Regions from separate parts of the Homo sapiens genome. Here regions 1 and 3 are each linked to region 2. The links come from fine-mapping of genetic effects on gene expression. A gene starts in region 2. Each other region holds a variant in brackets. All regions are shown on one strand. Distances are between the middles of the regions.

The links.
Region 1: its variant is fine-mapped to the expression of FTO in whole blood (TOPMed, PIP 0.98).
Region 3: its variant is fine-mapped to the expression of FTO in skeletal muscle (GTEx, PIP above 0.99).

The regions. Positions count from the first base shown.
Region 1 is chr16:53,838,359-53,841,210 of GRCh38, reverse strand. All of the region lies in intron 3 of FTO (FTO alpha-ketoglutarate dependent dioxygenase), which reads right to left. Among named protein-coding and RNA genes, the nearest start is that of FTO, 140 kb to the right of the region's middle. The variant T/A (reference allele first, on the strand shown) is at 1,392.
Region 2 is chr16:53,703,026-53,705,525 of GRCh38, reverse strand. It overlaps FTO (FTO alpha-ketoglutarate dependent dioxygenase), which reads right to left and starts at 1,370. Exons shown (of 9, transcript NM_001080432.3): 1 at 1,297-1,370. The coding sequence starts at 1,341. RPGRIP1L (RPGRIP1 like) reads left to right here and starts at 1,667. Exons shown (of 27, transcript NM_015272.5): 1 at 1,667-1,723. RefSeq lists enhancers at 1,148-1,557, 1,172-1,672 and a silencer at 1,708-1,757.
Region 3 is chr16:53,812,989-53,815,838 of GRCh38, reverse strand. The region is part of intron 2 of FTO (FTO alpha-ketoglutarate dependent dioxygenase); the gene reads right to left. Among named protein-coding and RNA genes, the nearest start is that of FTO, 110 kb to the right of the region's middle. The variant T/C (reference allele first, on the strand shown) is at 1,190.

The DNA of each region.
Region 1 (2,852 bases), 140 kb before region 2:
AGAAGAAATCTGAAACTTTCTCCTAGCTCAGCAGGAAAGAGTGTTATGATCAATTACTGATGTCTGTCATGGGCACTACAAGGGTTAGTGAGTGGCAGCACCAGCATTAGATAGTTGCTATCGATGTCTGATGACATTCTACAGGCACTTCTTATTCATACATAATATACTGTTACACTTGAAAATACCAGAATTTGCTAAACTGGAGTTCATGGACCAGAAAAGAACTCACGAAGGTGTGTAGCTTGACCTCAACCATATTTCCTTAACAAATCTAAATGAGTTGCCAACTGATAAAAGGACTTTGCCTAAAAATCCAAATTCCCAGCTACCCTTGAATTACAAGATCTGGTATCACTGAGCCAGTCACAGTGGCTATAGGGAAGAAGTAGCTGCCCATTTTAGACAAGGACGTGACCTTTGCTAGTCGCAGTCCCCACAGCCACTTCACTTTACTCATTTGAGGTACCTGCCTAACCACAGCAAAGTCTGTGACCCTTACTCAAGAGCTGGGTTGCAGAGATCACAGGCAAATCAGTCCCGTGACCTGCTTTTGCAAAATAAAGTTTAACTAGAACACAGTCATGCCCATTCATTTACATAAATGGCTGCTTTCACACAGACAGCAAGGTTGAGTAGATAAGACACAGACTATAAAACCCACAAAGCCAAAAGTACTTGTTTCTGGCCCTTTACAAAAAAAATTTGCCAACACCTGTTCGAAAGTCTTGATATTTGTGATCTGATGTCTACTGCACATTTTAGTAAAGAAGTTGAGGCTGCATAAAATAATTATGATGTAATGTGACTAATACCTAATAATGTAACATGACTAATGACAGCATACAGTATAATAATTAATGCTAAATTAATTGATATCCAGATCACCTTAGCAAAAGAATATGATATAAAAATTATGTTTATATTTGTGATAACCCAAGACTTGGCTGCTTCATTCTAGGGGGGCACTAATGATTACAGATAGAGCAAACAGCACAAGAAAAAAAAAGGAAATATTTTAGGAAGGTTTTTCACATGTCCCTTTCTGGTCAAATCAACTATAACTTCTACCATTGAAGTCCACACAAAATTAAAAAGAAATAAAAAGGCCCAGGTGTGGTGGCTCACACCTGTAATCCCAGCACATTGGGAGGCTGAGGTGGGTGGATCACGAGGTCAGGAGATTGAGACCATCCTGGCCAACATGGTGAAACCCCATCTCTACTAAAAATGCAAAAATTAGCTGGGTGTGGTGGTGCGTGCCTGTAATCCCAGCTACTCAGGAGGCTGAGGCAGGAGAATCGCTTGAATCCAGGAGGCAGAGGTTGCAGTGAGCCGAGATCGCGCCACTGCACTCCAGCCTGGTGACATAGTGACACTGCACCTTAAAA[T/A]AAATAAATAAATAAATAAATAAATAAATAAATAAATAAATAAAAAAAAAGAAAACCAATTATAATGACTTGAAAAAAATAATTTTCAAACTGTAAGGAACAGTTTTTATGAAGTTTTAATGCCACTGCGTGTGGACAGTCTAATAAGTGGGAATCTTCATAGGGTAACAGTCTGCTTGACTACTTTCCCTTCTAACTTTCATCCTGGTACTCTTCTCAAGCTGGCATCAATAAAGACAATTAGAGACAATAATTGCAATTAGTCTTTCTCGATGTCTCCCAAAAATCCAACACCTTTGAAATCTGCTCAGTAAAATGATAGTTTGGTGAGAGTTTTTCCCCTCCTTAGGCTGTGTAGGGAGGAGGAAAGTTTCACGTCTGATAAACTTTTTATTGTTAAATATAGTGTTCTTACTTCTCAGTGAAATCAACTTGTAATTACCTATAGCAACTGTAACTGATTACTCTTGCCCCATGTTATTTTGGCAACAAGCAGAGGCAACAGGTTCTTACTTGCCTTTAAGCCTCAATAAAATTGAAAAGATTTTAAGTACCTCAGTGTGTTTGGTGCACTCCCAGCTCCCAGCTCCCACTAACCAAACTGTTAAATAAGTAGAAGATGTGACAACATACAAAAGACTGTTAAGTTTAAAAGTCAAGTTTAAATTGTCCAAAACTTCCCCCCAAAATTAACCCATTCAATGTTTTATGCCAGCTAGTTTTTGAGAAAAAATTCTATTTAATAAAGCACAAAATACTTTGTTTACATTTCTAATTATAACCACGGCTCTACAGGAAACAAAGACAGAAGCCAGAGTATGACAGTAGAGATTACAGTGATACTCAAATAAAATATATCACAAAAAATTTTGTACCATATTTAATAACATACATAATAGTGTATGTCAAGAACTTCCCTCACAGGTTCAGTACATATTCATCATCACCATACATTTAAATAGCCCTCTTTCTTTCTTTTTGAGACTAGAGTCTCGCTCTGTTGCCCAGGCTGGAGTGCAGTGTCGTGATCTTGGCTCACTGCAACCTCCACCTCCCAGGTCCAAGTGATTCTCCTGTCTCAGCCTCCTGAGTGGTGGGGATTACAGGCATGTGCCACCACACGTGGCTAATTTTTTGTTAAAAACAGCCCTATTTCTTATTCTCTACTTTCTATTTCCTTAGCCAAGAGCTAAGATACAAAAGATTCTCAGCTTGGTGTGGTGGTTCACACTTGTAATCCCAGCACTTTGGGAGGCTGAGGCAGGCAGACCACTTGAAGTCAGGAGTTCAAGACCAGCCTGGCCAACATGGTGAAATCCCGTCTCTACTAAAAATACAAAAATTAGCCGGGTGTGGTGGCACATGCCTGTAATCCCAGCTACTCAGAAGGCTGAGGCAGGAGAATCACTTGAACCTGGGAGGCAGAGGTTGCAGTAAGCCAAGATAGTGCCACTGCACTCT
Region 2 (2,500 bases):
GTGTCTACGTTATTTAACACTGTTATTCACTGCCAATATTTGCCTAACATAGAGTAGGCAGCAAATGACATGTGCAAAGGCCCTGAAGCCCGATAAAGTATAGTGAAGAGTGACTTTTAAGAAGGCCAAAGTGACTGGTAGGCAGAGAGCAGAGTGTCATATCCAATGGGGTTGTGAAAGCAGGTAGGGTCCAGATCATGCAGGATCTTGTAGGCAATGTGAAGTTTTGCCTTTATCCTAAGAGCAACAGAAAGCCATGGAATATTTTTAAACAGGTGGTTGGCAGAGTAAGGAGAAAGGAAAGGGACATAATTATATTTGCATTTCACGAAGATCTTACTCTATGGTGTGCAGAAGAGAATGGTAGTTGAGGGAAGGGAGAGAAGGTGGAAGAAGAGTTAAGTTAGGGTGTAGAGTGAGTGTAGGCCAATCAATAGGCTATTCCAACAGTCTATTAAAAAGATAATGGTAGCTTGGTCCAAGGTAGTGGAGATGAAAAAAAAAAAAAGTGGGCATATTCCCAATATACGTAGACAAATCAACAGGATCTGAGTTTGGGAATGAGAGAAAGGAAAACACTCAATGCTTCTGAGCCTCAGTTCTTCATCTGTGAAGCTGGGCTGTTATTTATACTCCATCTGTATAATATCTATCTTGCAATCTGCTGTGACAATGATATGAAATAATTTAAATATTATGCACTTAATACAGTGCCTGACCCACAATAAATGCTTTTTAAAATCTCTGTTGCCATTATTATGGTCATCCCATGGAATGGCAACTACCAGAAGCTGAACATCAAAGGTAGAGAGGAGCAATGTAGTTAAAGATTCATATCCACAGCGCTAAAAGACACAAACTGTTATCAGCCGGTCACGGAGACAATTGTTCCAAAGAAACACAGCTGACTGCACAGATATTTCATCTAAGCCGATCTCAGTCCTCAGAGACCATTATGAGAAAGCACAGCTGGTATGATCACAGTCATCTGAGAATCCGGTAAACTGAGGCACAGGGATGGCGACAAATTTAACCAAGGAATAGATGCAGAAGAAGGACAAGGAAATGGGTATCTTGCTTCTCATTTTTGAGCCGATCCAACAAGACTCGGCCTGCATCCTGAAGAGCACGAATTTGTAACATCCCCTCTAATATCTCCAGGTCCCTTGCTGACAAGGCCCTGTCATCCCTTAGTTTAACACCGCGCATCCGCTCGCCATCAAACCAAGCCCTTCCGGTTCCCTGATCCTTGCTCACAGCGCACGAAGATCTCCAGGCCCCGGGAGCCCGACATACCTTAGCTTCGCGCTCTCGTTCCTCGGCAGTCGGGGTGCGCTTCATGCTGCCACTAAAGCCGCCTTCGCCACCGCAAGCTGCGTAGATCCCTCGCCCTGGACCCCGCCTCCTGCATGTAGTTCTCTCAGCGTCCTGCTCCCGTCTGGAGCTATTCTCCCTCTGAGTAGAAAAAACTACAACTCCCAGGATGCACCGCGGCGACACCCGCGAGCGCCACGGGATTTAGCACAGGAGAATTTCCCAGGTCCGACAGCTGGAAGAGCGTAGTCCGCTACCCCGCGAGCAAACAGGCTAGAGTCCAAGGAGAACTACATTTCCCAGGAGGCTACGGGAGCCTGCCATGTTTCTCCCGTGCTCCTCTCGGCCAGCCGCCCGCCACGCTGTCGGCGCTATAGCAACGGTAGCTAGCTGCAGGGCCAGTGGCACGGTGAGTACCCGGGAGGATGGGGGAGGATGAGGGTGGGTGGAGGTTGCTGACCCTCCCCACTGCAGCGCGGGCCGGGGTCCTAGGGTCCGCTCTGCCGCCTGGAGAAGGCCCTGGAGTTGGCCCTGGAGTTCTGCTGGCGTGAAAGCAGCCCAGCCCAAGACACCTCCACATCCTCAGGCCTGAATCACAGGCCGCCCTTTATCCCCACGTCCAGGACCAATTTGAAATGTTATATCCCAGCCATGAAGGTGAGAGTTGATGCTGCTAATTGCCATCTCTATCCAGATCCTGCAAGTTGTAGGTCCCTAACACAGTTTGCTCATTTGCCCTGGATTAGGAGTTGGTTGGTAGACCCTAAACCTCCTGAGTGGTCTATTGTTTGCTTAATTATATATTATTTGTTTATCATGTGATTACCTCCATAACTTGCTAGCTTCATAAAGGCGGGGGTTTTGCTTGCCATTTTAATCTCAGTACCTGATATTCATTTATTCATTCAATAAATATTTTTTCTTTATTCTTTTTTTTGTGTGTGTGACAGGTTCTTGCTCCGTTGCCCAGGCTGGAGTGCAGTGGTAAGACCTCAGCTTACTGCAAACTCCTCCTCCCAGGTTCAAGCGATTCTTCTGCCTCAGCCTCCCGAGTAGCTGGGATTACAGGCGTGTGCCACCACACCCAGCTAATTTTTGTATTTTTAGTAGAGACAGGGTTTCATCATGTTGGCCAGGCTGGTCTCGAACTCCTGGCCTGAAGTCAGCCGCCCGTCTCGGCCTCGCA
Region 3 (2,850 bases), 110 kb before region 2:
TGTTTCTACTAAAAATACAAAAATTGGCCAGGCATGGTGACGCGCGCCTGTAGTCCCAGCTATTCGGGAGGCTGAGGCAGGAGAATCGCTTGAACCTGGGAAGCGGAGGTTACAGTGAGCCAAGACCGCACCACTACATTCCAGTCTGGGTGACAGAGCGGGACTCTGTCTCAAAAAAAAAAAAAAAAAAAAAAAAAAAAAACAAGAAAGTCAATGGCCTTATAGGGTGGATATGCTGAGGAATTTGAACTTGATCTTGGAAGCAAAGGCGACTCAACAAAATTTATAAAACAAGGAGGTACAAGTCAGTTCTGATGGCACTGGGGAGGGCATGAGGAACGCTAATCAGGAGGATGCTAAAACTGCGGAGGCAGAAAGTGATCAATGTGGCCTACATAGTTGAGGCAGTGTCTGTGGGATGGAAAAAGAAAAAACAATTTGAGAGATTCTAAAGAGGTAAAACCACCAGGGACCCAGTGACTAAATGAGGGAAGAAAGCAATGGATAGAAGTTGAGGGTGGTGAGCTTTCTAATCTCAAGAATGGGACTAGGGGATACCGTTAGAGAAGAGGCTGAATGGGAAGAGCCTTGTAGAAAGAATCCTTATTAAAATGTAAGTGACATCCTGTCACGCTTTGCTCCAAGCCTTCTCATGCCTCCTCATCTCAGAGTAACCGCCAATGCTCTTCTTACAGAACTTACAGACTATAAGTTCTCGTATAACCGGGCCTCTCTCTCTCTCTCTCTCTCTCTCTGACCGTCTCCCCTGCTCTCACCAGCTGTCTCCCTCTGCTCCAGGTATGTTGGCCTCGGGTGCTTTTCCTGTCAAGTATACCTGAGGCTTTGCTGTTCTGTAGGCCCAGAACATTCTTCCAACAAGTATCTACATGGCTTGCTCCTACATCACCTGCCCCACAAGAAATAAGCTCAAAGAAGACACGAATCTCTTGTCAGTTTTCACAACTTCATTTCTAATGCCTAAAACAGTACCTGGCACAGAGTCGGGGAGTGAAATCCATTTGTTTAATGGAGTAAGTAACTTAATGAATATGAATCATGTTGAGTTAGATGTAGCTGGAAGACTTTCAGGTAGAGCCACTCCGTAGGCAGTTGGAAGTGGAGAGCTGGAGGTCACAGGGAGAGCTGGGATGGGGACAGAGGTCTGGAACCTTTGAGACAAGAGCAGAGT[T/C]ATCTCAGAAGGATGAAGAGACACAAGGGAAGAGAGAAGCAGTATAGGACTTAAGAGTGGAGACCCAAAAGCCAACAGCCCAGACTTAAATCCTAGTCCCAACATATCCTGCACATAAGTCTTAAACAAATTTTTGAACCTCTCTGTCCCTCGGTTTCCTCATCTCTAAAATAGGGTTTTAGTAACACCTGTCTCAGAAGCATATAGCAAGATTTCAGTGAGCTCACACGTGTAATGCACTTAAAGTAGCAGCAGAACAACCTGGCACACAGCTAGCACACAATCAGTGACAGCAAGGGGGTTACTGAGGATGGTCTCATTTTCTTTGGATAAAAGGGGCTGCATTCATATTTCTGGAAGTCAGAGTTTGTTTTCTGACTATGTAATTCCTCGTTTCCTTGTGTTCCATGATGAGCTAACAGAAGTTCTCTCTGCTTTTCTGCTTTGACCCTTGGTGGTTTGGTTTTGCTTTTCTCTACGGTCCTATTAAAAGAAACTGCAAAACTTCTCTGAAGGTGTTTTGAATTGGAGCATGGTAGACCAAGAGGTGGACAATACAGCAGAAAGAGCATGGGCCTTCAGAGTCAGACAAATATGGGCTGAACTCCAGCTCTCCCACTCAGATAACTAACTTAGTCTCTCCTGATTTCCTCCTTTTTTAATCTTGTTATGAGAGGCAGGCTGAACTCCAATTCCTGGGCTCAAATGATCCTCCCACCTCAGCCTCCCAAGTAGGTGGAACTTACAGTTGTGCCTGGTTCCTCTCTTGATTTCTAAAACAGAAATACCTACCTCAAGTACCTCAAGCCTGAAGAAAAGTAGTTGCTGAATACAATGAATGAGGCTGTTGTGGGGATTGCATGTGAGAGCATGCATAAAACATGTAGCACAAAGCCTAGCACACTGTAAGGATCAATCGACAGACCCAAAATGGAAGCTGAACAGACTCCTGTGTTTATGACTGGCAGCTGGATTGGCATTCCTGTGGTGAGGGCCTGTTTAAGGGACCCAGTGTCAGGTCTGAACTTTCTATTTACTCATGTCATTAAAAAGTATTTTCACTTCATCTTTTAAGAGAAGAGGTTTACTTTTACTAAGGTTTTATTGAAGTACTAAGCCTTCCTAGAAGGTGTACTTTGGCCAGGCGCAGTGGCTCACACCTCTAATCCCAGCACTTTGGGAGGCCGAGGCAGGTGGATAATGTGAGGTCAGGAGTTTGAGACCAGCCTGGCCAACATGGTGAAACCCCATCTCTACTAAACTTACAAAAATTAGGCAGGCATGGTGGCAGGTGCCTGTAATCCCAGCTACTCAGGAGGCTGAGGCAGGAGAATCGCTTGAATCTGGGAGGCAGAGGTTGCAGTGAGCTGATATTGCACCACTGCACTCCAGCCTGGGCAACAGAGTGAGATGCTGTCTCAAAAAAAAAAAAAGAAAAGAAAAACAGCAAGGTGCACTTAGAGTGATTAGATATTAGTATCAGGGTTTGTTGCGGGCCTTGGAAAGATAACAGAGAAGTCTTGATAGTTGTTCTGTTTGCATTTGGGTTTCCTTTTATCCCTCAGTGGATGGCTGGTTCAGAGCACAGTGGGCTGATAACCTTTTGTATCTCATTCTTCCTGTACCATTTTCACACGACAAAAGCTGAAATGGCTTGGCAG